Homo sapiens: one gene and its partners. The protein of the gene in region 1 interacts with the protein of each later gene in a pairwise test. Each region holds a gene or a part of one and is shown in the gene's direction. Other genes may lie near its edges.

What was found.
Region 2: the proteins of KALRN (region 1) and SPTAN1 interact in a two-hybrid assay, tested with the Homo sapiens proteins (one study listed by BioGRID).
Region 3: the proteins of KALRN (region 1) and SNCAIP interact in binary tests that used the Homo sapiens proteins (3 or more experiments, as listed by UniProt).
Region 4: the proteins of KALRN (region 1) and PAM interact in a two-hybrid assay, tested with the Homo sapiens proteins (one study listed by BioGRID).

The regions. Positions count from the first base shown.
Region 1 is NC_000003.12:124,028,709-124,037,032, forward strand, and holds the start of KALRN (kalirin), read left to right. Parts: upstream 1-4,660; 5' UTR 4,661-5,032; coding exon 5,033-5,105; intron 5,106-8,324. UniProt on the Homo sapiens protein: Promotes the exchange of GDP by GTP. Activates specific Rho GTPase family members, thereby inducing various signaling mechanisms that regulate neuronal shape, growth, and plasticity, through their effects on the actin cytoskeleton.
Region 2 is NC_000009.12:128,555,358-128,563,610, forward strand, and holds part of SPTAN1 (spectrin alpha chain, non-erythrocytic 1), read left to right. Parts: exon of another isoform or gene 1-9; coding exon of another isoform or gene 10-42; intron 43-8,253. UniProt on the Homo sapiens protein: Fodrin, which seems to be involved in secretion, interacts with calmodulin in a calcium-dependent manner and is thus candidate for the calcium-dependent movement of the cytoskeleton at the membrane.
Region 3 is NC_000005.10:122,455,237-122,462,236, forward strand, and holds part of SNCAIP (synphilin-1), read left to right. Parts: exon of another isoform or gene 1-1,245; coding exon of another isoform or gene 1,246-1,299; exon of another isoform or gene 1,300-4,098; intron 4,099-7,000. UniProt on the Homo sapiens protein: Isoform 2 inhibits the ubiquitin ligase activity of SIAH1 and inhibits proteasomal degradation of target proteins. Isoform 2 inhibits autoubiquitination and proteasomal degradation of SIAH1, and thereby increases cellular levels of SIAH.
Region 4 is NC_000005.10:103,023,788-103,030,952, forward strand, and holds the end of PAM (peptidyl-glycine alpha-amidating monooxygenase isoform e preproprotein), read left to right. Parts: intron 1-1,343; coding exon 1,344-1,547; intron 1,548-4,394; coding exon of another isoform or gene 4,395-4,397; coding exon 4,398-4,451; intron 4,452-5,099; coding exon 5,100-5,278; 3' UTR 5,279-5,929; downstream 5,930-7,165. UniProt on the Homo sapiens protein: Bifunctional enzyme that catalyzes amidation of the C-terminus of proteins. Alpha-amidation is present at the C-terminus of many endocrine hormones and neuropeptides and is required for their activity.

The DNA.
Region 1 (8,324 bases):
TTTTATTTTTTGAGACATGATCTGACTTTCATGCCACCATGTCCGGCTACTTTTTGTATTTTTTGTAGAGATGGGTTATGCCATGTCGCCCAGGCTGGTTTCAGTCTCCTGGGATCAAGGGATTTGCCCACCTTGGTCTCCCAAAGTGCTAGGATTACGGGCGTAAGCCACCATACTCGGACTTGTATTGCTTTTTAAATATGGTATATTGGTTTCCTAGGGTTGCTGTAACGAAGTAGTGCAAACTGGGTAGCTTAAAATAATAGACATTTATTCTGTCACAGTTCTGAAGAGAAGAAGTCTGAAATCAAGTGTTAGAATGGCCATGCTCCCTCTGAGACTCTGGGGAGAATCTTTCTTTACCTCTTTCTAGCTTCTGGTGGTGGCTGTCAATTCTTGGTATTCTTTGCTGCTGCGTCACTCCAATCTCTGCCTCTGCCATTACATGGCATTTTTCCCTATGTGTCTCTGTCTTCTCTGTCTTCATATGGAATTTTTTTTTCTTCTTATCGGGACACCAGTCATATTGGATTAGGGTCCATCCTAGTGACCACATTCCAAATTTGATTATATCTGCAAACACCTTATTTCCAAATAAGGCCACTTTCACAGCTACCAGGGGTTAGGACTTTAACATACCTTTTTTGAGAATACAATTCAACCCATATCATGTGGTAAGTTACATTGAATAGTTTTCCAAATGTGAAACCAACCTTGTATATGTGGGATAAACCCACTTGGTTATGATGTATTATCCTTTTTATATATTGTAGATTTTATTTGCTAAAATTTTATTAAAAATTTTATTCCTAATAAATATTCCTAAGGAAGTAGTCTACATTTTTTTTCTTATATGGCCTTTGTTTAGTTTTGGCATCAGAGTAATGCTGGCCTCATAGAAGTAGTTGGGAAATATTTCCTCCTTTTCACTTTTCTGGAAGAGTTTTTGTGGAATTGATATTATTTCTTCCTTAAATGTTTCATAAATTTACCAAAAAACCCATGTGAATCTTGAGTTGTTTTGTGTGTGGGTGTGTGTGGGGAAAGCTTTTAAGCTACAAATTTAATTTCTATAGTAGATAAATAGCTATTTAAGTTAGCAATTTCTCCTTGAGTGAACTTTAGTAGTTTGTGTCCATCTTATGAAAGTTGTCAAATTTGTTGGCATAAAGTTGTTCATAATATTCCCTTATTATTATTTTTACATTTATAGAATTTGTAGTGATGTTACCTCTGTCATTCCTGCTAGCAGTAATTTGAGATTTTTCTCTTATTTTCTGATCAGTCTGGGTGGAGGTTTTTTTATTTTATTGATCTTAAAGAACCCACTTTAGTTTCATTGATTTTTTTCTTTTGTTTTCCTGCTATTTTATTGCCTTCTGCTCTGATCTTTTTTATTTCTGTTCTTCCACTTTGATTTCGTTTGCTCTTACAGTAGAATAGGAGCTTATTGATGGGAGATCTTTATTTTCAAAATAGGTATTTAGCACTATAAATGTCTTTCTGCTTCAGCTGCATCCCACAGATTTAGACTGCCTTAGCTGCATCCCACAGATTTTTATGTAATGTGTTTTCATTTTTATTCACTTTGAGATTCTTTCTAATATCCCCCTTTTAATTCTTTTTTTGGTGGGGGTGGCAGGGGACAAAGTCTCACTGTGTCACCCAGGCTAAAGTGCAGTGGCACAATCTTGGCTCACTGCAACCTCTGCTTCCTGGGTTCAAGTGATTCTCATGCCTCAGCCACCAGAGTAGCTGGGATTGCAGGCAAACGCTACCATGTCCGGCTAATTTTTGTATTTTTAGTAGAGATGGGTTTTGCCCTGTTGGTCAGTCTGGTCTTGAACTCCTGGCCTCAGGTGATCCCCTGGCCTCAGCCTCACAAAGTGTTAGAATTATAGGCATGAGCCATGGTGCCCAGCCCATCCTTTGAATTCTTAGTAGCTCATGTGTTATTTAGAAGTGTGTTATTTACTTTCCAAATATTTGGGAGGTTTTTCTAGATTCTTTTTGTTATTGATTTCTAGTTTAATTCTATTGTGGTCAGAGAACATACTCTGATTTTTTTTTAAAAACCAACTTAGGTATAATTTATGTACCTCTTTGCATGATTTTAATCCTTTTAAATTTATTGAGATTTGTTTTATGGCTTAGTGTATGGTTTATCTTGACAAATGCTACCTGTGCATTTGAAAAAATGTGTATCTGCTGTTATGGAGTGGAATATTCTATAAATGTCAGTTAGGTTAGGTTGGTTGATAACATTGTTCAAGTCTTCCATATCTTTACTGATGATCTGTCTCCTTATTCTATTAATTACTGCATTTTACAGATATTAAATTATCTGACTATAATTATAAATTTTTATATTTCTCCTTGCAATCCTATCAGTTTTGCTTCATGTACTTTGAAGCTATCTTATTAGGTGCAAACACTCTTAGGATTGTTACGTCTGCTTGATGAATTGAAATGTTCCTCTTTATCCCTGGTAATATTCTTTGCTTTGAAGTCTTCTTTGATATTAATATAGCCATGAACACTTAACATTTTAATAGAAGTTGCCAAATTTCCTCTCAAAAAAAGTTTGTGTCATTACATAAGGTGTTCCCCCTTTCTTGTCTATATCTTGAGATTTTGATATGACCCTTCCTCTAAACATGTAATGTTTCTTCTGAATTGTGATGAGCTAATGCCTTGCCAGGCCACTGGTTCTTTAGCTGCACAATGGTGGCAATTAATTAATAGCAGCTCTGCCATCACATATGTGTGTGCGGGGGTAGGGGAGCAGACCAGGGGTTAGGCAAAGGATTAAGGGGAAGGAAGATTTTGAAAAGACAAATGAGAAGTATTTTCATTGTCAGAAAAGGCATAGGCAAAGGGGCATCTTAAGCCAGTTCAAGATACTAGGGCCAGATGAATTAGATCTCAGGGCAGTGAACTTGTGATGTCAGAGTCACTACAGAGGTCTGATAGATGTACTCAAGGTTGGAGACAGGTCTGATAGGTGTATCCAAGGTTGGAAACAGGTACTTTTTTTTAATGGGTGAAAAAAAATTAGACTGTTTGTGTCAGTGAAGAACGTGATGCGTACAGGGAGCCAGAAAGTGTTCACTAAAAACTAATTTAATTCATTTTATTTGCTACAAGTTTACACAGTTGGTGGATCTGCATAGGCCCCAGTTGCCTTGGCCCCCAGAGAGAGGTGGAACCAAACAGGTTACTAGAGACAAACAGATCCAGGAGATTCTGTCTGATGGGTTGCAGTCATTAACTTCAGACCAGTACCTGGTTTTCCTATTAGGCGTGTTTTAACACATTAGGTCAGGCCACCACTTCTCCATCTGTCTGGATGAGGCAACAGCGAACAGCGCTCAGCAGACCTTATTAAGTACTCAGGTCTTAAAGACCCTCTGTTTGGTGGGCTCTGTAGTCACTAGAACCATAAACACACTACTGGCTAATTATTGTTTAATTATTGCTTAAAAACTGATGGGCACAATACAATCACCGCATTAATTACCCCATACAGCATCTGTTTTCTTTTTTGCAGCCATCCCCATTCCTCCCCAGCCCCTCTCCCCACTTTAATTGAAATTCAGCTTGCTGTAACACCTCCTTCCTCCTGGCCAACTGGATCTCTCCATTCACATGAGGGAGAACAAAACCGAGAAGGCCCCAGGGATTAGAGAGTTTTGACAGCTGTCCAAGAGGAGCGCGGAGATACGGGCCAAGTACGGAGGCAGGACAGAGACAAACGAGGGACAAGAGAGTGACGGAGGGAGGGAGAGATAGGCAGGGAGACATCACAGGAGCATTAAACTGGACAAAGAGTCACAGAGACAGGCGGAGATGTTTAAAGGGGCGCTGAAAAGGGGAAAAGGACGAGAAAAGATAAAAAGGAGAGAAACTGTGGCGAGCTGGTGAGGAAAATGTGAGAGGCTCAGGAGGGCAGGGAGACAGAAGAGAGCTCGTCAGGAAGGAGGGGAAGAAAGGCCGGCCTCTAGGGACAGGTCAGTCCAGCTTGGAGACCGATCTGAAGATCCAGAGAAGGCGGGCGGGCAGCCTGGTGGTCCCCTCACACACCTGGGAGTGGAGTGGACGGAGGAGGTGGCCGCGGGGCCGGGAGGAGCACCGGCGGCGCGAGCGGAGAAGCTGAGCGCGCAGCGCCCGGGCCGCAGAGCCCCCTGGACAAGCCTGGCGTGTGCCCTGCAGCCCCGGGCTCGCCCGGCGGCCCCGCCCCCTCCCTGGCCCGGGCTTTTCCTGCGGAGCTCAGGAAGCCGGCCTAGCACAGCCTCGAACAATAGCTCGGGACTCGGGCTCCGCTCCCCGGGAGGCCGGCGCGGGGCCGCTGGGACTGGGGGCGTAGGCGCCGCCGGGGGCCCGCAGCGAGCCCTCGGCCCCGGCCGGAGCTTCAATTCAGCTCGGCGCTCCCGGGGTCATTGTTGGCCGGGACTGAGGGAGCGGGAGCCGGGGGAGGAGCTGGGGAGGCGGCTGCTGCGGCGGCGGCGGCGGCGGGAGCCAGAGGGGGAGCTAGAGAGCGAGCGAGCGAAGGAGGGAGGTAGCGAGTGAGCGAGTGAGCGAGGGAGGGAGGAGGTAGGGAGACAGGGAGGGTGGGAGGGAGGAGGAAAAATAAAGAGGAGAGAGCGGAGCAGGGCTGAACAATAGAGACAGGCAGACGGGCGAGCAGGAGAGCCAGCTGCCGCTGCTGGGGGACAGCGGGCGCCCAGGCAGCCCGCACCCCGGCCCCGGGCCCCGGCCCCAGCCAGACAGCAGGCGGCCAGCGCCCTGGGGAAGGGGTACCATGGGGGAGCTGGCGGCAGGCACCCCCAGCCCGCCGCGCGCCTCCGCCTGAGGGAGGCTCAGCGTCCTCTGCCCCAGCCCCGCCGCCCAACGCCCGCCCTCGAAGCTCCGCGGCCGCCAGCTCTGCGGCCGCAGCAGCTGCGCCCCGCGCCCTCCGCCCACCGGGCGCCGAGCAGCCCTCGGCCCCAGGCTTCTTCGGCTCCCGGCTGCCCGCGGACGCCCTCCCACAGTCATGAACCCCCCTGAGGGAGCAGCGGAGGAAGGAGGAGCAGCAGACTCGGACGTGGACGCCTTTTTCCGGACAGGTAAGCCGGGCAGGGCGCGGGGGGCCAGGGCTGAAGGCTACTGCCTCGGACGCGGCGTCTCGGACAAGTTTGGGGAAGGAGGGCTGTTGCTGCCGCGTGCGTGTTGGGGGGCAGTGCCCCCTCGGCGTCGGGGCTGGAGTTGCCGAGATTCTGGTTGTTATGGCAGTGCTGGCTGCGTCTGGGGAGGGCGTGGGGGCTGGGAACTCCGCGCCCCTCCGCCTTCACCCCAGTTGCGGGAGTCTGTGTTGGGGAGGTGGGAGGCGGTCCCCTCGGACCGCCTTCTCCCAGAGCGCGGGGATGGGCGGTGTTGGCTCACTTTGCAGCGCGCCGCTCCGGCTACCGGCGTCCCGGCCCCTCCCTTGGCTCCCCCTCCCCTGTGCCTGTCAGCGGGGCTCCCGGCGGCCGCCCTGGGTCGGCACCCCTCCTCGCCGTCGGGGGCCCGGGGCCCTGATGTGCACAGAGGGGCGGCGGGGACCCGGAGCCGCGCCGGCTGCAGACTGACAGGAGTGGGGCGGAAGACATCGGTCTCGCCTGGTGCGTGTGGGGAGCTGGTCCCTCTGACTTGAGAGGCAGACCCAGCTGGGAGGGCGGTGGGCGCCTCGGACCTCCCCCTTGTCCTCCTCTTCAGTTCTGGGAACGGAGGAGCTATTCATAAGAATTACTCATTCCTGGAAGTGTGAGTTAGCGTCCCTCTCATACACACCCACTAAGTCTCTGCTTGCTGTGAGGTGTAGAGCCCTGAGATGTCTTTCTAGCTCTTTGCGCCCCTGCCATCGTCCAAGTCCCGGGTCCATTGCTCCTCCTGCTCCCTGGCTACACAGTCCCTCCCTAGAACCGGCACTGACCACCCTTATCTTCCACCACCTGTGGCCCTGTTTCTCTGATGGCCAGGGATTCCCCGTCTCCCTGTACCTGTGGCTTCCACCAGCTTCTGTGTGTAGCTCCCCATCTCCCCACATGTCTGAAACAGTTTTGTCTGGAATCTTTGTCCCAAGGAGTCCAGTAAGTTACCGGGGCCCCATGCATCTGCTCTCCCTTCTGGAAAGTTGGATTAGAGGACATGAACTGGTGGGGGTCAGGGGTCAGGTTAGCTCTGGAGGGTCTCTGCACATCCATCTGTTTCCTAACCCTGTTACCTTGCCCTGGAGGTCATCTCTAGGGAAGGGGGTGGGGTGCTTTGCGGGGGAGACTTGTGGCTTTGGAAGTCAAGACTTGATTGGCTCATATGTTCATTCTCTAGTTGATGTGCAGAGGAAAAAACTGGAGGACAGGAGCTGGTGCCAGGGTCTGGGGAAATCAGAGGGAGCCCTGTCATTCTATTCTGCTTCCCAGGTCTAAGCCTTCTTTCCTTTTCTTTCTTCCTCCTTCCTTCCCTCCTTCCTCTTCCGAGACATGGATTCTATTTTCTTTCTTCTCTCTCTCTCTCTCATACACACACAGCCCAGCACCCAAAAGCATGGATTCTAAAGAGGTGGAATCTAGGGAAAAGGTGGTTCTGGGGGCTAAGTGATATTCAGAAATACTCATTATGAGGCAGAGGAGGGGAGATATGGGAATTCATAACTGGGACTAGAAACAAATTGACCAGTCAATCAAAAACCCAGCTGACCCCCCTTGCCTCCCAACTGGGGCAAAAGTCTGCATTTTCTTAGCTCTGAGGGAAAAATCTTGAAGTGTGAGCCTTCCCACCTTCCCTTTCTGGACTCCACTTTTACCTTTTGGTGCCCACTCCTCTTTCCCCTTTCCTATCATCCAAACACTAGGTCCTGTTCATTTTCTGTTCCAGGCACCCGTAGCAGAGCTCAGTTCCTGGAGGCTTGCTTATTTCTGATAATAAATTCACACAGTGTTAATGGCCAATAATAGTCCAATGTGTTACTTTTCCCAGGGCCTTTCAAAACACAAGGTGTGGCACACATTATCTAACCCTGGCTCAAATCACAGAATAAATAGCAGACTGGGGTCAGTCTCCTGTGGGATTCCTATGTTGGGGATATTCTCCCTCCTCCTTGGGCAGCCCAGTGGCTGAGCTAAGTCTGATGTGCACTTAGTATCAGAGAAAGGTTAAGTCATTGGTGCATGAGGCTGGAAATGACTGATGACCTGTAACATGTTGCAAGAGGGGGTAGGTCAAGGACTACATCCACCCTGTGTGGCCCTCTATGCTTGGCTCACTGACTGTCACCACACTTCTGGTCTCTAGCCTAGGCTCTTGCTGGGGATTCTTCTTCTTCTTTTTATTTTTATTTTTTGTTGTTAATTTTTATTTTAGGTTCAGGGGTACATGTATGGGTTATATAGATAAACTGTGTGTCACAGGGGTTTCGTATACAGATTATTTCATCACCTTGGTAATAAGCATAGTACCTGATAGGTATTTTTTCTGATTTTCTCTGTCCTCCCACCTTCCACCCTCAAGTAGGCTCCGGTGTTTGTTATTCCTCTCTTTGTGTCCATGTGTTTTCATTGTTTAACTCTCACTTATAAGTGAGAACATGAAGTATTTGGTTTTTTGTTCCTGCGTTAGTTTGCTTAAGATAACAGCCTCCACCTCCATCCATGTTGCTGCAAAGGGCATGATCTTATTCTTTTTTATGGCTGCATAGTATTCCATGATGTACATGTACCACATTTTCTTTATCTAGTCTGCCATTGATGGGCATTTAGGTTGATTCCATGTCTTTGCTATTGTGAACAGTGCTGCAATGAACATATGCATATGCGTTGGTGGAGATTCTTAAGCTTAGAAAAGCCATGTTTCTAAACCTTCTCCCTTCTGATTTCCCATCTCTGTGGAATATAGCACTATACCTGATAGGCTGGATAGATTATAAATGTATTCTATTGAACAACTGAGAAAGCTTCAAACAAATTTTCAAAGTCCCTAGCACCAGGGTTACCCCTTTCTTTCTGATGGAAAATTTTGTATGCACAAGGACCAAACTGGAAATTGCTTTGTCAAAATTCTGGCATACTGTGCTTCTAATTAGGCATGTTTCAAATTATTCTGTCATTTTGGTTCCTTGTTTGTCCTCTTCTGATCATTTTGGTGTTTCAATCCCTTGACCAATTGGTTAAGCTAGATTCCCTAAATCTCACTTCCCTGTGTGCACATGGACACAGACATCCCACCCTACCCAGCCTACTATTCTAGATTGGTAGACTCCAGATTGTCTTCTTGGGAATTCTCTGTTCCAAGCCTGAGAAAGTGTGTTACAG
Region 2 (8,253 bases), on another chromosome or scaffold:
TCCTCCATCATGTTGTCATCGTTTCGTAAACGCAGAGTCCAGGTATTTGACGAGCATGCAGAAAACGGGTTGCCTTTTTGGTTTTGCCTGGCTTGCAGTGAAGGCATATTCGTGTCAAAGAGGTTGAATGATCCAAAGAAAGGGGGAAAAAAACCCTGCCTGCATGACGTTTCTGTTAAACAAATTGGTTAGGATTTGTTTGGGGTTTTTTGGTGTTAAATTATCAGAAGTATTAGTAAATTTACTTGAAAATTTGCAAAGCCTTTTTTTTTTTTTTTTTTTTTTTAACCTCCCTCTCTTTCTCTTTAAGGCATGAATATATTAATTTCTTACCACCATTCTGGTGTTTGCATGTAGTGTTTGCTGACTTTTTATTGGTGGCTACTTGGTTTTTAAGAACCAAGGGACTAAACATATTATCCTAGATATTTGGAGAAAATAATCTGAAAATACATAGTAAAAATTGTGTTTTTAAAATTTGACAAATATTGTAAACTTGGGTTTGTTTCCTGTTGCATTGACTTCTTCCACCACAATTTCTATAATAGAGCTTACCTTTTCATGTTTAAAAAATAGCTCTCGGGCTGGGTGCGGTGGCTCATGCCTGTAATCCCAGCGCTTTGGGAGGCTAAGGTGGGTGGATCACTTGGTCAGGAGTTCAAGACCAGCCTGGCCAACATAGTGAAACCCCATCTCTACTAAAAATACAAAAAATTAGCCGGGTGTTGTGGTGGGCCCCTGTAATCCCAGCTACTTGGGAAGCTGAGGCAGGAGAATCGCTTTAACCGAGGAGTTGGAGGTTGCAATGAGCCGAGATTGCACCATTGCACTCCAGCCCAGGTGACAGTGCGAGACTCTGTCTCAAAAAAAAAAATTAAAAAACAGCTCTCTTTATATGTTTTCTTTGTGTACAGTCTTTGTTTTCTAAGTCGGACCTTTTTCACAAAAAAAAAATTTAGTATCTTGATATCCCAAAATAAAAAATATAAACATTGGAAATTTCTAGTGTTTATAGGTGATAAATCCAAGGCAGGCCTTTTTATAAATCAGATGAGTTATTTACTTAAATGAGGTTTATAAAAATGGGCCACATTATAACCATTTCCTGTTTTGAGTCATAGTAACAATAAGGAACTTAAATACCTCTCATCTGAATTTTGCAGGTTAAAAGGTAAGTAGCAGCAAGATAGTATTTGGGAAGCAATCAGAAGTAAGTTTTCTCAATATTGCTCTGCATTTCTGGATTTTGATGCAATGCAGTATGAATCTTTTGCTTTCTTAAAGCTAAGTCCCTGCTCACCTCTGCAAAATTGCGCTAACAAGTTGAAATGAATTAATCAGTTTGAAGGCTGACATGCTGATCCACAATCCTGATTGGAATGTGGTTTAAGCAAAAATATTTGTTGTTTTTATTTATGGTGTTCAGTCATCCTTTATGTATTATTGACCTCTCTGCTTACCATCAAATCTGCCACTAAAATCTGCAGCTAAGCTGGTTTTGAGTTAATTTTGTTTGATCTGAGAATCAACTGGTATACAATTTTATGAGTGCTAATCAATTCTTTGGTGGTTTGTTCTTAGGGAAGCCCTTCCACATCCATGGATATAGTTCTCTTGCTTTGCAAATCTGAAATTTGGTAATAGGCTGGCATCCTAAGCCACGGAAAAAAGACATTGTTGGTTCTGCACATTTGGGTTCTGACTAAGCAACAAAAGCAACTGATGAATGGTTTCTATGATCTTTTGCTTTGGGTGATGTTTATGAATTTTTCCATAACCAAATGACCAAACGACCCGTTCATCCTGTTAGTCCCTAAAAATCCCTTTCTTGCAAAACTGTATGTCTAGTGGTGTCCTGCCTGAGAATCAGAATTCATTTTGTAGTATTCCAAATGTCTCTTACATCCAGTGCATTCAACTTGCTGAAAGAATGGCAATCCCAATGCTTTGTTTTTAATAGAGACTCCTTTCAGCTTCACTATAATTTTTTTCTCTCTTTTGGGATTCCATAGAGAAACTGACTGCACTCACTGCAGGTGCCAGGTTTACAGAGTCCAGAGCATTTGACCTTTGGTTCGAAAATGTTTGTATCTGCAGTCTTTTGTGTTGCTTAACGCAGTGGGATTCCCACCCACTGCCTCTGCCTGTACAAGAAGATAGAGCTATATATCCCATAAATACCCCCCAATTTTTTTTATTTTTATACTCCCAAATTTTATGCCCCCAAATACCCCCAAATTTTTATTTGGGGAATGAAAATTCCCCAAATACCAAGAACTGCCTCAAACAGCTGTCTCTTGGCGTTCATCAATAAGACAAAGATATTCATGTCTAATCTATTTTGTAGGAATCCATTTTCAGTTGATACTGTGTATAAGTTTGTGTTTGATATCCTGGATCATTCTGAAGCATGCTGTATCTTTGGATTAAATTAGAAATTTCTTTTTTTTTTTTTTTTTTTTTTGAGACGGAGTCTCGCTCTGTCGCCCAGGCTGGAGTGCAGTGGCGCGATCTCGGCTCACTGCAAGCTCCGCCTCCCAGGTTCACGCCATTCTCCTGCCTCAGCCTCCCGAATAGCTGGGACTACAGGTGCCCGCCACCACGCCCGGCTAATTTTTTGTATTTTTAGTAGAGACGGGGTTTCACCGTGTTAGCCAGGATGGTCTCAATCTCCTGACCTCGTGATCCATCTGCCTCAGCCTCCCAAAGTGCTGGGATTACAGGCGTGAGCCACCGCGCCCAGCTGTATATTAGAAATTTCTAGCCAAGATTCATATATTCAGACCCCACTCTTCTTCCGAGATCTGGTAGTATTGTAAGAATGCTGACAAGTTCATTTTATTCATTTTATTTATTACAATAGAGGACATAGTTGTAATTCCTGCTTTATCCCCCTGAGATTCGCATTACTTGCTGAATGATGCAGCTAACGTTTGACTGCTGCGTTGCAGCATTTATAAATAGCCTACGTCTTCAGTCTCCTCTAATAATATTTTGCAAATATATACCTTTTTTTTTAAGTTACCTTAAATGGGAAGTTGTCCTTAAACATATAGAGAATATACTTAGCACTTCATTTCCCCTCCTTCAGTCTCTATGTGAACAGACTTGATTGGCAAAATCAGAGACAGTTGGCTCCTTTGAGATAAGCAGTCAGTTGATTGCATTCCTAGGAAGTCGTCTCTGTTGTGGTTTTTAGGCAGTTAGTGGAACTGATAGATAGGCTGGTAAGATTGGAGTTTGTTTTTTAATGGCACGTTTCCCAGATTTTTCCTTTCTGGTGCTCTCAAAAGGCGTTAATCCCATATGGCTGGGAACAGCCTGGAACGTTCTCTGTGAAGTCGGCCTTATCAGTCTGCTGCATATGCCAGGGAAGGGGTGGGGTGCTTGCAGCATGCAGCCTCGGTTGTGGAAGGAATGTGGCACGCCCAGGCCGAGCTGAGCTGACATTTCAGTAACTGACAGTTTCGGGTGAGAGGCTGTAGCACCTTTGGATGGCAGGAATTCTTAATGATATTTATGAGAATTTTCCTGTGTTTAATGTAGTCTGCAGAAATGACCCTTTTAGGAGCAAAAAGAAACTGGAACTCGTGTAGATAAACAAGAGACAGCTCCCTGTCAGGTTAAGAGGGGGGAAACTCTCACTAACCCATAATGTTTTTTGGTGTCTCCTGTAATTGCACAAATGAAAATTCTGAATGCTGACTGCAGTGGGAGCACATTGGTGACTTTCAGATACCCAGCTCCCCAGAGACAGCCTGTTGTGGCTTGGCAGACCTCCCACCTACTGACGTCAGCTGATCTACTGCAGGAAAGAAAAGTCCATTATTGCCTGACCAAAGCACTTGGTATAGAATTGACTCGTTCTACTTCACTGGGGTGACAAAGAGGGCCTTTTAGGTTGGTTAATTTCAGCAGGGCCTTGCTGAACTGTCTCTCTGGATTGGCAGGATCAAATCAGCAAGCTGGGCCCAAGCAGGGGGACTTGCTCAGATGGAACCTTTGCGATATTATGATGGAGATTTTCTTATCATAAAGGGCTGTTCCCAAATGTGATTTAATTTCTGTAGCAGGTAAAGGATTTTAGAAATGCAGTGACTCCTGTGATAGGAGGCAGAACAGCACCATACACTCGAATCCTGGAGACTGCCATCTCTTTCAGGAGCTCGTGTGCAGTGTCGTTATTGTTCCATGTGTAACTATGCCTTCCTTGGAAAATTTCTTTACAAGAAAATTTTGGAAGCAAACAAATTAGATGCATAATTTCTCAATGTTTTTCCATCTTAACTGTTTCCTGAGGGTTGAGAACAAAGGAAATATATAAATAAATAAGTCTAACCCTAATTGTTTACCAAGACTCAATCTTAAATAATTTTGATTTTTTTTTTTTTTGAGACGGACTCTTGCTTTTTCGTCGCCCAGGCTAGAGTGCAGTGGTGCGATCTTGGCTCACTGCAACCTCTGCCTCCCGGGTTCAAGCGATTCTCCTGTCTCAGCCTCCCAGGTAGCTGGGACTACAGGCGTGCGCCACTATGCTTGGCTACTTTTTGTATTGTTAGTAGAGATGGGGTTTCACCATGTTGGCCAGGCTGGTTTCAAACTCCTGACCTCAGGTGATCCACCCGCCTTGGCCTCCCAAAGTGCTGGGATTACAGGTGTGAGCCACCCTGCCTGGCCGATAATTTTGATTTTTAAGAAATGATTAATACATCCACATCCACCTCACCTTTTTTTTTTTTTTTAAGAGACAGAGTCTCGCTCTGTCGCCCAGGCTGGAGTGCAAAGGCGTGATCTTGGCTCACTGCAACCTCAGCCTCCCGGGTTCTGGCAATTCTCCTGCCTCAGCCTCCCAAGTAGCTGGGATTACAGGCGCACGCCGCCACACCTGGCTAATTTTTTGTATTTTAATAGAGACGAGGTTCCACCGTGTTGCCCAGGCTTGTCTCGAACTCCTGAGCTAAGGCAATCCACCCCCTTCAGCCTTCCAAAATGCTAGGATTACAGGTGTAAGCCACCGTGCCCGCCTTTTTTTTTTTTTTTTGACACGGAGTCTAGCTCTGTCACCCAGGCTGGAGTGCAGGGGCTTGATCTCAGCTCACTGCAAACTCCGCCTCCCAGGCTCAAGGGATTCTCCAGCCCCAGCCTCCTGAGTAGATGGGACTACAGGCATGTGCCACCACACCCAGCTAATTTTGGTATTTTTAGTAGAGACAGAATTTTATCACGTTGGCCAGGCTGTTCTCAAACTCCTGACCTCAGGTGATCTGCCCGCCTCGCCTCCCAAAGTATTGGGATTACAGGTGTGAGCCACTGTGTCTGCCTCACTGTTTTTTCACTCCAAAGTGCAGATGTGAAAAGGAACTAATAAAGAGGGAGTGAAGGCCGGGTGCTGTGGCTCACGTCTGTAATCCCAGCACTTTGGGAGGCTGAGGTGGGTGGATCACCTGAGGTCAGTTCGAGACCAGTCTGGCCAATATGGTGAAACCCAATCTCTACAAAAGTACAAAAATTAGTCGCGTGTGGTGGCGGGTGCCTGTAATCCCAGCTACTGGGGAGGCTGAGGCAGGAGAGTCACTTGAACCTGGGAGGCGGATGTTGCTGTGAACCCAGATAGCATCACTGCACTCCAGCCTGGGCAACAGAGCAAGACCCCATCTCAAAAAAAAAAAAAAAAAAAAGAAGTGAAAGGAACTAATAAATAACCAAACAGCCATCAATAAATAATATGTCGGCCAGGCACGGTGGTTCACGCCTGTAATCCCAGCACTTTGGGAGGCCGAGGCGGGCGGACCACAAGGTCGAGATCAAGATCATCCTGGCCAACATAGTGAAAGCCTGTCTCTTAAAAAGAAGAGAAATACAAAAATTAGCTGGGCGTGGTGGTTTGTGATTGTAGTCCCAGCTACTCGGGAGGCTGAGGCAGGAGAATTGCTTGACCCTGGAGGCGGAGGTTGCAGTGAGTCAAGATCGCACCACTGCAATCCAGCCTGGCGACAGAGCAAGACTCCATCTCAAAAAAAAAAAGGCCAGGCGCGGTGGCTCACGCCTGTAATCCCAGCTCTTTTGGAGGCCGAGGCAGGCAGATCACGAGGTCAAGAGATCGAGACCATCCTGGCTAATATGGTGAAACCCCATCTCTGCTAAAAATACAAAAAATTAGCCGGGCGAGGTGGTGGATGCTTGTAGTCCCAGCTAGTCGGGAGGCTGAGGCAGGAGAATGGCATGAACCGGGGAGGCGGAGCTTGCAGTGAGCCGAAATTGCACCACTGCACTCCAGCCTGGGCAACAGAGCGAGACTCCGTCTCAAAAAAAAAAAAAAAAAAAAAAAAAAGAATATGTCAATATGTCAACTCTAATCATGTTAAGAATCACTGTGTCTATTGTGCCATATTCTGGGAACCGGAGGATCCCAGGTCATCCTGGCCTTTGCAACTTGCTTACTAAATTACCTGTCTCCCAACTACTTAATTATAAAACGATGGCAGTTTCTTTATTTCCAAGCTCTGAATATAATTGGATCTATAATATGTGCCAAGTCCTGAGTTCTGTGCCCAGAGAGTAAGAGTAAAATATGGTCTTCTTTAGAGTTCCTTAAAGGACTTATGAATGTGGTAGGGAGAACACAATAATTTCATGGCAGAATGTGGCAGTGTTATAAGATGAATGATAGAGGTGGGTGGTCAGGGAGTGGAGACTTCTGATTCAGAAAGACTTCATAGAGGACGAGGCATTTGCTTTGGACTCAGAGATCTGTATGATTTGTTTTTTATATTTTTTATTTTTTTGACAGGCTGGAGTGCAGTGACGCGATCTGGGCTCATCACAACCTCCGCCTCTCAGGTTCAAGCGATTCTTCTGCCTCAGCCTCCCGAGTAGCTGGGGCTACAGGCGCGTGCCACCACACCCGGCTAATTTTTGTATTTTTAGTAGAGATGTGGTTTCACCATGTTGGCCAGGCTGGTCTGGAGCTCATGACCTTGTGATCCACCTGCCTCGGCTTCCCAAAGTGCTGGGATTACAGGCGTGAGCCACCGCGCCCAGCCGAGATCTGTATGATATTAGATGGTAGGGTTGGGAGTGGGAGAGGAGAGTGCACTCCTGGGAAAGGGAACTTTTTGAGCTTTCAAATGGACCCTGTCCAGGACCTGTAATTGGTGTTGGTGAGGGAGCTTGACATGAGATACGGCTGGAGGAGACAACTGGAAGGTGACTGAGTGAAGTCTTGTTTACCTTGTAGTAAATGTGATTATAGTGATCCTTGTCAGGGTCCTCATCAGAAATCAGCCTTCTCCAAAATAGGCTGACAGACTTAGGGCAGCAGTGTAAACTATGACTGCCTGTTATCATTAAATATTACAAAACTTTGGGAGGCCAAGGTGGGCGGATCACGAGGTCAGGAGATCGAGACCATCCTGGCTAGCACGGTGAAACGCCATCTCTACTAAAAAATAGAAAATATTAGCCGGGCGTGATGGCAGGCGCCTGTGGTCCCAGCTACTCAGGAGGCTGAGGCAGGAGAATGGCGTGAACCCAGGAGGTGGAGCTTGCAGTGAGCCGAGATCACGCCACTGCACTCCAGCCTGGGCGACAGAGTGAGACTCCGTCTAAAAAAAAATATATATATACATGTATGTGTATATATATATATATATATATATATATATATATATGTATATATTTTATTACAAAAACTGCTCTGAGCAGACATTAAGCTTTTCAAGGTCACTCCCAGTTTTTGGTTTTAAGGACTTGACGTCTGTTTTAAGAATAGAAAATAGGCCAGTGCAGTGGCTCATGCTTGTAATCCCAGCACTTTGGGAGACTGAGGCATGTGTATCACTTGAGTCCAGGAGTTCGAGACTAGCCTGGGCAACATGGTGAAACCACACCTGTACAAAAAATATAAAAATTATCCAGGTGTGCTGGCACCTGCCTGTACTCCTAGCTACTCAGGAGGCTGAGGCGGGAGGATCGCTGGAGCCCAGGAGGCAAGGTTGCAGTGAGTTGAGATCGTATCACTGCACTCTAGCCTGGGCAACAGAGTGAGACCCTGCCAAAAAACAAAAAACAAAAAAACGCCACTTTCTCAGAGTATACTGCCATGTGGTCAATCCAAGATTGGTAATTCAGATTTAGTCATTAGGTTGACACCTAGTTGTGTAGCTTTAGTCAGCACATTCTTTATTTGCCATTCTTGTCATCAGTCTAGCACTTAACTGGATAGAATTCCAATTTTACAATATGCAAACTGAA
Region 3 (7,000 bases), on another chromosome or scaffold:
ACACACAGACAGAGAGAACTAGGCCGGTTCACTCCTGAGATAAAGCAAGAATGGATCTCTCTGGCTGAAATAAAGATTCTTCTGATAAATTAAGACTAGAGTGGGAATGTGGGCCTGAAAAATACCTAGGCTTGCCTAATTTTGCCTATGGGACCCCACTGCAAGAAGGAAAGGAACTAAAGTGTTCATCTCTCAGCTATGACTCCAAATCTTGGCCCCAAAATTTGCTTGACCACCAAATGGCTCCTCTCAGGTAGCAGGGATGCACAGAGTAGTATGACTTTGGAAGTCAGTGGCAGTCATTGGGTTGGAGTTGGGGCCAAATGTTATTGCCTCTACATGGCCCTATCAGCATATCCCTGGGGAAAAGAGTGAGGCGATGGATCCCGGTTCCAGGAATACATTGGAATTCCATTTTAGTTAAAAGAAATTGTTATTTTTTTCTGATAAAGGAAAAATAGGGACAATAAATATAACATTTTTAACATTTTAAAGAATGTCTGCTCTGTGAGGGCTCTGTTTGCTGTTTATTTTTCTAAATTGTTCACAGCTTGATAGCAAAAATCTAAATTTCTTTTCAATGCCCTTTAAAATTAGATTCAACTCTATTCCTTTGAGCAGCATCCCCAGTGTGATTCAACTGTAGAGGATCACTTGGTTTATAACAAGCAGATTTATCTTTACTTTATCTTACAAAAGACAAGTTGTTTTTAAGTTATTGTAACTCCAAGGAAATGTTTGCAATTACTTGTCTTAAAATGCCAGTGAAACATTCATTTCCCAGAGTTTAAGTCCATCTGAGATCTTTAGGGCACAAAGTGAGCAGTGATTCCAGTTACTGATAGGCAAAAGGGCATAACCCCTGGCCACCACCAGTAACACCCACTTTGACCACAGTTGCACAGTTGCCTGAGGGGTTAGGAAACGCCTAATCCTAGCACCAGCATTAGCATAGAGTCCTTAAAAATCATAAAGCAATAAACACCATTAGTGTGGGTTTTACTGCCAAGGTATTAGCCACACTGGGAACTTCATACTGAGAGCCAAGAGCTGGTATCAAATATTTTGCATAGATCTTAAGGTTGTTCAGCAGCCACTTCAAAGAGACTGGTCTGCTTCGCCAGTAGTGAGATGACATCTACTATAGTAATGGTCATCTGCTGTGCCCATTAGAGAGTCAGAGTTTAGGGTATCATTCCCCCACCCCTAACACACACAAACACACATTTCTGTCCTTATTGCCAGGACATCATACTAAACAGAAAAAGGAACAAAGATGTGGAAGACATTGGGAAGTAAAGGTGAGGCCCTGGCTGAAACCTGCTCCCAACCAGAGCATATCCTCAGCCCCACTAAAAAGCATTTCCAGAATCCTGATGGGAAAATGCAGCCAGTGCAACAAGACCCTGGTGCTGCTGAACAAATGTCTCCTTGCCATCATTTCTCTATATATTATCAAATAACCATATTTTAATCTTGCTTTCATTTTTTGACCTTAAAATGTTAACATTATTTTTAACTCATATGCTTGATTCTTGAAAGGATAATGATAAACCTACTCAATCATGTGGGTGTTGTTACCAAACTATGTAATATATGTTGAGTGCATCCTTCCAGAGACAGACAAATCTCACCAATGCAACAGTTCAGAAAAGTTTGTTAAAGCTGTTAATGAAAAAGTATTTAGTAAAGTAGTTGGTGCTTAACACTATAGACATTTGAGTTTTTGCTCAGAAACTGTAGTTTCATGTTTTTTATTTTTGTTTTGTTTTGTTTTGTTTTTGAGAAAGGGTTTTACTCTGTCACCCAGGCTGGAGTGCAGTGGTGCGATCTTGGCTCACTGCAACCTCCACCTCCCAGGCTCAGGCAATTTTCCTGCCTCAGCCTCCTGAGTAGCTAGGATTACAGGCGTATGCCACTACCACCCAGCTAATTTTTGTCTTTTTAGTAGAGACGAGGTTTCACCCTGTTGGCCAGGCTGGTTTTGAACTCCTGACCTCAGATGATCCACCTGCCTCAGCCTCCCAAAGTGTTGGGATTACAAGTGTGAGCCACTGCAACCAGCCTGTAGTTTCATGTTCTAAGCCCTGAACGGAAGTATAATTTTCTGTTTGCCTTTCTAACCTGCTGGCATCAGGCTGCATGCCCAATGAGCAAAAGTTGAAAGACAACAGCCAGGTGCCTGAAGTTGGGTGATTGCCTCTGCTCCAGAAACCCTTAGAGCAGCACTGACCCTCCCAGCTCCCATGCTTCCCCAGGTACTCTGTGCTCTCCCACAGTGTACCCCCAGGTGCTCCGTGGTTCCTCCCCACCAATGCTTCCCCAAGTGTTCTGTCTGTGTCCCCACCCAACCCCGCCAACTCTTTCTCTCTCTCTCACTCTCTCTCTCTTTCCTGCCTCCTCATGCTTCCTTAGGTGTTCTGTGTTCTCTGTCCTGCCCACACCCACCTCAGCCTCGCCTGTAGTTTCAAAGTATTTTCAGAAAGAAAACCCTCATTTTATACCATGACTTGGAGAAGAAGAGGAGGCTCTAAACTTGAACTATTTCTTCACATGAATTAAGCGACAGTTCCTTCTTTCAAATGTGCCAGGTTTTGGGGTTTCTATTGACCATTGCACAGTAGAATTACAGGGAATTGTTGCCAATAAGGCAGAGTCTTGTGTATAAAGAAAAAATGTCCATGTTATGAGAAGCCAGAATGATCACATCTTCCCAGTGTCTAAGCACAATTTAGCAAAGTCTTTATAGAGGCTGGCAGAGTTCCCAAGATGGATGCACAAATGGGGTGTCTTTTCATAAGCTCCTTACACTGGGAAAAGGAGAAAGCAGATTGCACCACAAGAAGACAGTGAAACAGTTTAGTTAGTGTCAAAGTATGATATGTTGAGACATAAAAAAGGCAGGGAAGACCCTCGTACTCTCTTAAATCACTATTCCAGGGAGGCAGGAAATGAATGTGTGGAGTTTGTGAACACCCATGAACCAACAGTAGGAAGACAACAGGAAGAGAACTGCCTTGGACACCAAAATCTTCCCACCAGACCATTTGCTTTCAACAAGCCGCTCCTGATTTAAGGATAGTCAGAAAACCTAAGGACAACTCACTTCTCCACCCCCACCCTCCTTTCCTTATTCCCCAGAGATCCAGTTTTGAATTGTGTGACCTCAAAGCACATACATGTTCTATTAATGTCATATTTGCACCACACGTCTGCCACCACTAGAGGCATCTTTGTACTTTAAAAGAACAGAGCCTGCCTGTATCTCTTAAGGCTGGAGTTTCAAAGAAGCAATAGGTTAGTTGAGTTTAAAAATACCAAATAGAGACTTTACACAGCCACTTTCCAGTGCCTTCATCAAGTATCCTTCCCCCGGCCAGTCACTGGTGCTCTTCGTTCCCACGCTGAGGACAGCGCGGATGGACAATCTTCCTAATGCCACATCCCTGGATGGCCGGGCCACTCTGCAAATATTTTCAGCTCTAAGCCACACATTTTGCTCTGCCAGGATAAGGCCTGATTCCTTCACTCAGGGAGATCATAATCAAGAGAGAATGAAAATAGGATTCAAGTAAAACATGGCAAGCTCTGTGAAAAAGGCCTAAGAGCTTCATGAAAATAGTAATCCCCAATAGCACCTTTGTACTCCACGTGTACTCCCAGTGTCTTGCTTGGTGCCTGGTGCATGATAGAGACTTCATAGATATTTGGAGAGAGGTGAAGCTAGAGAGAGGAAAAGTGGAAGAAGAGAGAAAAATATGAATAAAAAAAGGACTGAGCCTGTCTTCCCACAGCGGGGAAAAATGGTGTGTTCTTTATCAATATTGGCCTTCTGGTCACAAGTCCACCTACCCACAGTGAGTTTCCATTTGGGCACTTCAAATACAAGTTTTCATGCCTTGAACCAAAATCCATTTCTTAGTAGATGAGACTTATAGATGTGCTCTCAGTCAAAACTCTGAGGGAGATCACAGAAAATAGCAAGGTTTCCCTGTTTTGGTTATCAGCGGAAATGTCGTGCGTGCCGTGGACCATTCTACATGGATGCTGTAAGTTGCAGTCTGGTCACCATGGACTGTGGAAATCTGCAATCCATGCCTAGAAGAGTCAGCAAGTTAGAACACTTGAAAAACTGTTATTTAAATTTAAGCTTTTTTTCTTTCCAATTTTGGTCACTCAGAATGTGATTTCATATCCAAAAATGAAATAGAGGAGTAGCAAATTATCTGAATAATTCATGCCAGAATTACCCAAACACTTTCGTTCTTTGAATACTGTTAATTTGGGACTAGGTAATTGAAGGGTTCAGGGAGGATTGAATTATCCTGATATTTTTCAGATAAATGCCTCAAGTTAATATTTTACTTGGTACAGACTTAGCTCTAATCATAAGGGGTTTTGTCCTGCAGAAAGAGTGCTCATTTTAGTGTTTTTGACCACAGCACCTCTTATATTAAAGCAGAAATGCCCATCAAAGTCTAAACTTTATTATCTTTAGACTATGACCAAAACCTTCTTTTAAGTGTTCTATTTTAATTTATTGTTAAAGTGATATAGATACTTATAAGAGTAATACTAGCATTATAATAAAGACTGGATGTGCCCTGTGCCAAACCCACCCCCTTCCCTAGCCTCACTCTTTTGAATCGACCATTCACTTTTCCTTCAGGTGTTTTCTCTAGTATTCTCTATTTCTAAGTAACATGCTCATACAGATTTTCAGTTTCAAATAGTATCCCTGTTATCTACTGGCATTCTACTATAGAAAATCAAAATGATAGCACTTATAAACACTTATAAAGCACGTACAGTATCCCAGAGAATATTTCAGGTGCTTTACACATATGTACTATTTTAATCTTCTCAATGACACTATGTGGCAGATACTTTTTTTTTTTTTTAAGAAACAGGGTCTTGCTCAGTCACCTAGGCTGCAGTGCAGTCGTGTGATCTTGGCTCACAGCATCCTCTAACTTCTGGGCTCAAGAGATCCTCCCACTTCAGCCTCCTGAGCAGCTAGAACTACCAGCATGTGCCACCCCACCCAGCCAAGCAGATACTATTATTATCCTAATTTTGCGTATTGGAAACTGAGACATAGAATGATTACATATCTTGCCCAAGATTACATAGTAATGATGGCAATAAATTGTGGAGCCAGGATTTGAACTCAGTCTGGCTCCTAAATCCGTATTTTTAACAATGATCCAAATGTGTCTAGCTCCATTTTAGCATCCAACAATCCAACACTGCACCTGTTCTCTCTTGTTCTGTCTCTCTCTTTCCCTCTCTTTCCTATCTCTCACACACGCACCTACACACATGCACACATTCCTGCTTCCTCTTCCTCCCACCCCCATGAATATAGTTGTATCACTCTCAAGAGCTAAATCAGTATTCAGTGTTAATTATCATTATGGTTATTTAAATATTAATCACAAGGACTCATTATGTTGTCCTATGTTATATTTTCTTTCTCATACAATTTTATGTTTGCCATGGAAATAATTTTGGTTTCTTAATTTACAATGCGTTTCTAAACACTCTGCTGAAGACCAAACCATCTTTTAGCACCCTCAGACAGCTCAGGTGTTTGTCAGTTACTCTCTGTTCATGGAGACCCCTCCTCCTGCCCCCATCTTCACTGCTGCCTCCTGGCACTGCCACACAGCTATCATCCTGGAGTCTCTCATGCACATCATCCTGGGAATTCCTTGTGCTTCTCTCCTGTTTAGACTCTGTTTCCTGAACCTGTCTTTTCCTTTCTATTTTGTTTATTCTCATGCTTCAGTCATATATCTTCCCACCCAAGGAAGGTAAACAGTTGCTAATTTTTTTGAGACCCTGACAGTCTGAAAATATCTTCAATTTACCAGATTGAGTGTTTGACTCAGTATAGGATTCTAGGTGGGAAATTATTCTCTTTCAGAATCTTGAACACATCATTTCATTTTCTTTTGCTTCTAATGTGTCTGTTGAGAAGCCCTATTCTTCTCTGCCAATGGCTTGGAAGATTTTATGATTTCTTCTTTATCTCCAATATTTTGATTTTTTGATGCTTTGCCATGATGTGGGTCTGTTTTCATTCCTGGGCTGTGGGCACTCAGCAAGCTTTTTCAATCTGGAACCCTCAGTACTTCAGTTCTGGGAAATGTTTTGTACAATTTCTTTGAAAATTTTCTCTTCTCCAATTTCTCTGTTCCCTCTTTTGAAAATCCTCTTATTCTAATGTTAGACACACTGGACTGATCCTCAGATTTTCTAATGATTCTTCTCTATTTTTCCATACTTTGACTTTTTCTAGTTTGAATCTCTAATATATCTACTGAAACTTGCCTTTCAATCTTGCTATTGAATTTTTTATTTCTGTTATAATAATATTAATTTCCAACATCACTTTACTGGTCTTCTCTTTGTTCCTTTTTTATAGCTGTTTTTTTTTTTTTTTCTTTTTCTTTTTGAGACAGAGTCTTGCTCTGTCACCCAGGCTGGAATGCAATGGTGTGATCTTGGCTCACTGCAACCTCTGCCTCCTGGGTTCAAGTGATTCTTATGCCTCAGCCTCCATAACTGGGACTACAGCCACCACACCTGGCTAATTTTTGTATTTTTGGTAGAGACAGGGTTTCGCCATGTTGGCCAAGCTGGTCTCGAACTCCTGACCTCAACTGATCTACCTGCCTCAGCCTCCCAAAATGTTGGGATTACAGGCATGAGCCACCATGCCCGGCTTTTATAGAGTTTTATGTGCAAATCTTATTTAAATTTTTGCAGTCAAATACAAATGCGTATCTTTATCTTCCTTTTTACAATAAAGGTGTCGCACTGTACACACAGTTTTGTTTCTTGCTTTTTTTTATCTGACACGTTGGAGGACTTTATGTGTTAGTATATAGAGAGCTTCTTCATTCTTTAACATAGTTGCTATCATCTTCAGAAGTACACGGTGCTTCTAATTCCTGCATCTGGTAGTGCAAATCAGTTAGTTGGATTCCCTGAC
Region 4 (7,165 bases), on another chromosome or scaffold:
GATTAAAGGAAACGATGCCTGACAATGGTGTAAGTACTCAATAGATATCACTGAGACTGTCAAAGAGGCTGGCTCAGAACGTTGAAGCAAAGAGTTGGAACCTACCATCTGTTTGTATTATAAATTATGTTGACAGCATCTTAAATGATTTGGGAAACATTTATTTGGAGGAGTATCCAGTAAACTACTAAGCTGAATCTATACCTACTAAACATTAACCAAAGATTTTCCTGATTGTGTTATCCCTACCATTTTGTCAAAATCTTCTTGAGGCTTTACAATGCATTCTGTATCGTAGGGCAGAAGGGCATTCCAAGAAGTCGAAATTTCAGAAATGTATGACCTGTGAGTCTTCCTGCAAATGTGGTTGTAACTTTTAGTCTGGGCAAATTCTTACTAGTCTTTGTACACTAGAGTTTCTATACAAATACACATATGTGCTTCTTGTAGGGCAAGGATGTCTCAAGGCTCAACCTCATTTTCATATCATTAGTTATTAAGATCACTGCAGCAGCTTATATAGTTTCATTGCATCAATTTCCCAAACAGTACTTTAGGCTTGATACCTACCCAGTACCTGCCAATGTTACAGAATAGTTTTAGTTATTATAATAGTTGTTCTTTTCATCAGTAACAAAAGGATATACAGTTCATCTGTCTGTACTCACATTTTGCTGAAAACAATATAAAAGAGCCTGAAAAGCACATAGTTCCTTTTTTCTTTTGTAATCCTAGCATTAATGTGTGCAGCTGTCCATGTGAAATACCAAAAATTAATTGAACATGAAAAATATTTTTAAACTAAAGATACAAGGAAACAAACACTTATTATATACATTTTTTATGACAGACATTTACACCCAACAGTTTTATGAAGGAGGTCCTATTATTACAGTTTTATAGATGAAGTTACTGTGGCCCAGATAATTTAAGTAACTTGCCCAAAGTTATACGGCTAGTATATAGGAGAATTGGGATTTGTACCCAGGTTTGTTTGATTCCAGTATGCACACCAGTTCTTTCCCCTACACAGTACTGTCTTATTAATTTTACCTTTGGAAAAATACAAAAGGATATATATTCTGTGGAATTATAGCTAAAGAGCATATTAAAAGTAGAACAAAAGAAAACTAATTTGAAGGTGAAAAACCATTCAGTGGAAATAACTAATCACAATGCCTGCTGCCAGTTTGGTAGATTCAGGTATTAAAACATGAAACCCCTGTACACTGGAGTCAACAAGTTCTTTGTGAACAGTTATTGATTTGACTGGGTAGGGGTGGGTAAGGGGGTTTTGAAATCTTTGAGTCAGTTGAATATTGTGAACTCTTCTTTCCCTGAAGAAGCCGAGGCAGTTGTTGAAACCAAAATGGAGAACAAACCCACCTCCTCAGAATTGCAGAAGATGCAAGAGAAACAGAAACTGATCAAAGAGCCAGGCTCGGGAGTGCCTGTTGTTCTCATTACAACCCTTCTGGTTATTCCGGTGGTTGTCCTGCTGGCCATTGCCATATTTATTCGGTGGAAAAAATCAAGGGCCTTTGGAGGCAAGTAAAATGAGCCCCGTGAACTTGGAACCTGCCTTTGAAAGAGTGTTTGGCCTAATTATCCTCAGGAGTTTGATTGGGATTTTTTTCACTGTATTTGTTTTTTTGTTTTTAATGCTCTCTACCATTTTTGACATTATTGTCTATGTTCCAAATATTGCCCCTAGTTAATATCACAGTACAAAATAGTATCTGGAGACTCTGAAATTTGGATAGTTAGATTAAAATATAACCTTTAATACTATCTTTTAGCAATTGGCTTAAGTCCAATTAATGAGTCCATACGAAATTGTAGGTAGTAGAGTCAGTATAAATTAGCTGAAGGATCAGAGGAGGAGATACCTGCTGTTAGGAAGAGGCCCAGTCCTCAAAGTACCTGGGTCAGTTTTTCAGGTTGTGTTTTTCTCCCATTAGGCTCCTAGCTACATGACCATGGGCAAGTTACTTAATCTCTCCAGACCAGTTTTCTCATAAAAAAGTGGGGATAAAATAGTTACCTTACAAGGTTGTACAAAGATGAAATAATGTACATAAGCATTTATCAGGATACCTGGAACCTAGGAAGTACTCAATACCACCAATGGTTATGATGAATAATCATTGGTAATAAAGTAACAAAAGGCATAAGAAGTTATAAAAAACACTTGTCTTAAACCTTAGTTTTCAAGAAAAATTAATTCTATAACAAACCATTTGATAGTTTTTGAATAGTCATAATTTAGCTCATCAGCCTTCCATAACTGAACAAGGCAGAGTCCAATACCAGAGTTAGTATTTTATGAAATCATTATCACAATATAGGATCCAAGAGCTGAGTTTATTTTAGGACATCTAAATAAATAAACAACCCAATTCATGTTTCTTACCGCTCAGTAGCAGTCCCTTGGCTGGGTCCCCAGGTCCTAGAGCAAGTCTATAGCTGTGTGTGGGAAGAAATCCATGGATCAGGGAGAGGGGGAGCATTTGATCAAGAAACAGCATCTGATCCTATTTCAGGTCAAGGCAGCCATGGCAGGGATTCAGTGCCCTTGGCAAAGCCCTGACACAGAAAAAGGCATGGAAACAGAAAACAGAAAATTCAGTTTAATATGTTGTAAAAGGGAATTTTTATTAGACTTTATTTTGCTTTTCATGTGCCATCAATAAATCTCTATAAAAATATAGTTAACTCTTCCCAAAAAGGATTTCTATTAAGTCCATGTTACAGATCTGGAACTGTCATAAGTAGGGGCAAAGAGAAATAAACATAGTCATTGTCTTCATGGTGTTATATAGATGCTTCAAAAGAGCAAGAATCCATATCTTGAGTACTGATATGTCCCCAGCACAAATAATAGTTTCTGATACTAGTGGTTTAATAAATTGTTGTTGAAAGAATGAATGAATAAATCAACCGAGCTCACAGAATAGATAACATATGAAAGAGACATGAAACAAAAAAGTTATAGTAGAGGGTGGTAAGTGCAGTGATAAATACACAGAGTAGTAGGAACAGTGGGGCCTAGGGGAAGGTGGCAGGAATTGTGGTAACCAACCCAATCTGGCAGAAGCAGTGGCTAGGGAATAAGGAAGATTTGGTCTCTCCTGTTTGTTGTTAAGCACATGTGACACAGCACTGTTACATGATGCTGACTTTACAGGAATGTGTTAGGAAGGTAGAGACCCAGGTAGAACCCTAGAAAATTGCCATTATTTGACCGTGTTTTACTTAGAAAAATTGCAGTTTCATATGTAGTAGTAGTAGATCAGCTTCTCACTTTTTTTCTGAATTTGTTCTTGATAGATCTTATCCAGTCTAAGGTTATTAAAAACCCTAATGGACCTTCCATTTATTCATCATTCCTTATTATGTATTGACTCCATATCAGACACTGTGCTAGGCACATGGGGATACAAAACTAAGGAATGTCCTTGCAGAACTTACAATCTAATTTGTTGGCTTTCTAACAGTCTTACCAGATTCTTCTTCCCTTCTTGCCTATTTCTTTCCACATCACTGTCTTCTCCCTTTCCTCTCATCTGCGCTATCTTTTTCCATGATGCTGACTTCAGTCCTGGTTAAAGACCTAACAGGACAACCCCAGGCCTGACTTTCCTGACCATAGCCCTTGAGGGAGTGATGAAGCCTGGGAAATAGTACAGGGAGAGACACAGCAAGGGAAAAAATGAAACCCATTGGGAGTTCTGTCTCCCCATAAGGAAAGAGAGTCTGTCCTTTATGGAGATAGGCAGTCCTGTTGGGAACATTTAGGTCACCTACTATGCTTGGAAAATACTCAGGGTGTCATGTGCTTTCCCTTCACTTATGTCTTACATAAAGAAGAAACGATATACATGGATCCAAAGCTTTCTCAAGCAAGATACGTACTGTCAGTAGAAAGAGTAAAGCTGAAGGCAAATATCCCTAAATTGTCATAACCAAAGATGGAAAAATTTTATAAATTATTAATAACATTTCCTGATTAAAAAAATAGCTATGATTTATTGAGCATTTACTGTATATCTATAGGTAGTGTTCTAAATGTGTCACATGCAGTGTCTGATCTCAGCCTTACAGACAGGGATTCTCCTTGACCTTTCTTTTGTCAGAGGAGAAAACTGAAGCTCAGAGAAGTAATTTATCAAGACTGCACAGCCAGTAAGAGACACGGGCAGGAGTCAAACCCAGCTTGGGCCCTTTATGTATGTCTCAGAAATATACCGCCTTTCTTAAAAATTAGAATTGCATACAGACAAGAGCCAGGCCTTGCTTTATCATTTACCAGTTCCTATTTTAAGTTGGAAGTTGAGTGCATGGGTTGAGAAAGATGACTGGGACTCATTTTGAAATGTGCCATCTTTTTTTAGCAGATTCTGAACACAAACTCGAGACGAGTTCAGGAAGAGTACTGGGAAGATTTAGAGGTATGCCTATGACCTTTTAGAACCCTTCATGTTTGGTTCAAAGTCAACAAGCACATGTCTTTTAAAAAGCAAGGAGATATTTCATATTTTGTCTCTGAAGATAAAGCACCTTGTATGCAGCTTAGCATCTCCCAGAGTAAATACAGAATGCACACCATAAACTAAACTGAAGTGCATGGGTCTGGCAGCAGATTTCCCAGTTTTATTTTTCCCATTCTGCATTATCTAATTCTCTTCCCCTGCCTTTTACCTGGCTTCATTTGTCTTCAGCAAATTTTCTGTCACTCCTGTTGGCATGTCAATGTTTGTCATAGTAAAGATGACCTTTTCTTAAAGTCATTGAAATGAGGAGCTGCTCCAGGGAGGCTAGTTCTGGATAGAGAGCTAGAGAAAAGCAGGAGGTGAAAGTGAATATGAAATATTCCTGCAGAAATACATAATACTTGGGAGCTTTTGTTTTTCTTCTTTAATAGTAGCATCTATATGGCTCTGTAGGATACGTCTCTGTCTGTTTTTCTATTTTATTTTTAAATAAAATAATCTCCCCTTTCCCATCCCCACCTTCTGACTTTATCATTTAAGAATTTACAAGGTAACAGACATTGCTGCAAACTTTACCCAATTCTGTTATTGTTTGCTTTTTTTCAGGAAAGGGAAGTGGAGGCTTAAACCTTGGTAATTTCTTTGCAAGCCGTAAGGGCTACAGTCGAAAAGGGTTTGACCGGCTTAGCACTGAGGGCAGTGACCAAGAGAAAGAGGATGATGGAAGTGAATCAGAAGAGGAGTATTCAGCACCTCTGCCTGCGCTCGCACCTTCCTCCTCCTGAAAACCAAGCTTTGATTTAGATTGAGTAAGATTTACCCAGAATGTCAGATTCCTTTCCCTTTAGCACGTTTAAAGTTCTGTGTATTTAATTGTAAACTGTACTAGTCTGTGTGGGACTGTACACACTTTATTTACTTCGTTTTGGTTAAGTTGGCTTCTGTTTCTAGTTGAGGAGTTTCCTAAAAGTTCATAACAGTGCCATTGTCTTTATATGAACATAGACTAGAGAAACCGTCCTCTTTTTCCATCATAATTCTAATCTAACAATGGAAGATTTGCCCATTTACACTTTTGAGACTTTTTGGTGGATGTAAATAACCCCATTCTTTGCTTGAACACAGTATTTTCCCAATAGCACTTTCATTGCCAGTGTCTTTCTTTGGTGCCTTTCCTGTTCAGCATTCTTAGCCTGTGGCAGTAAAGAGAAACTTTGTGCTACATGACGACAAAGCTGCTAAATCTCCTATTTTTTTAAAATCACTAACATTATATTGCAATGAAGGAAATAAAAAAGTCTCTATTTAAATTCTTTTTTAAATTTTCTTCAGTTGGTGTGTTTTTGGGATGTCTTATTTTTAGATGGTTACACTGTTAGAACACTATTTTCAGAATCTGAATGTAATTTGTGTAATAAAGTGTTTTCAGAGCATTAGCTGTCAGTGTATTTTCCAGTTTTTGCGTATTTGCAGATTTTACATACAACTTTTATAATAATTACACAAACCCACAAATATTAGTGAAACTTACTCGATGTCTTCAACTAAAAGAAATGTGTGTATTGTACAAAATTTAGAAGATACTTTAGCCAATATAAATTAAAAACCAGCCTGAGTTTACATAAATTTGTAAAGTCAGGCTCTTCTAAAATCCAAAGAGGGTTTTTGCCTATATATCAATCAGAGGATAAATACTTTAATAAAAGGTAATCACAGCTAAGTGGATACCTGTGTCTCAAATTACATATGCAAATGATCCATCAGTAGGGATCACTAATAATAGTTTTCCTTTTAAAAAATAATTTCAGGGCAGGTACAGTGGCTCAAGCCTATACTTCCAGGACTTTGGGAGGCCAAGCAGAAGGATTGTGGGAGGCCAAGCAGAAGGATTGTTTGAGCCCAGAAATTCAAGGCTGCAGTGAGCTATGATCAATCCACTGTACTCCAGCCTAGGCTACAGAGTGAGATCCTTTCTCTAAAATAAAATACAATTTCCATGTATCCATAGGAATATATTCATCTTTTACAGTGATTGCAGATTAGTTTTAAAACGTCTTTTTCGTAATTCGTCAATGCAAGTTAGTAAGAACCAGATAATTTTCCATTTTAAAATGATAGGAATCTAAAACTCTTTTTCAAAAATGCCAACCTGTTTTTCCGGCATCATAGTAGTTGGAATAATACAGATATAATTGACTAATCATAAAGTACATGAGAGTACAGAAGGGAAATTTGGAAACGGTAAGTCTGCTAGGGCATTACAATCCTGTCCTAGCACTCCACCTTTATTCTGCCAACCTGGGTTAATTAAAGATGGTAGCCTGGAAAGTAATGAATGACATTGACTTCAGGCAATCTTTCCACTGATTATTCTTGGCTGAACTTCATTTATCGAGTCAGAGAATGCACTGCCTGAGAAATGTCCCAGAGGAGTGAATCCTAGGCCTGGCCACAGTAGAATCGCCTGGAGAATTTAAGAAAAAAATTGTTGGGCACTCACTCTTTCCAGTGATCTTTATTTAGTTGGCTTACAATGGAATACAGGTATGGTTCATGTTTTTAAATTTGTCCAGGTGTTTCTATTGTGCAGTCACAGTTGAAAACCATTGTCTTCGAGAATAGCTATTCTATCTTGCCAGTTACAATAAGTGGATAGCTATATTTTCACATAA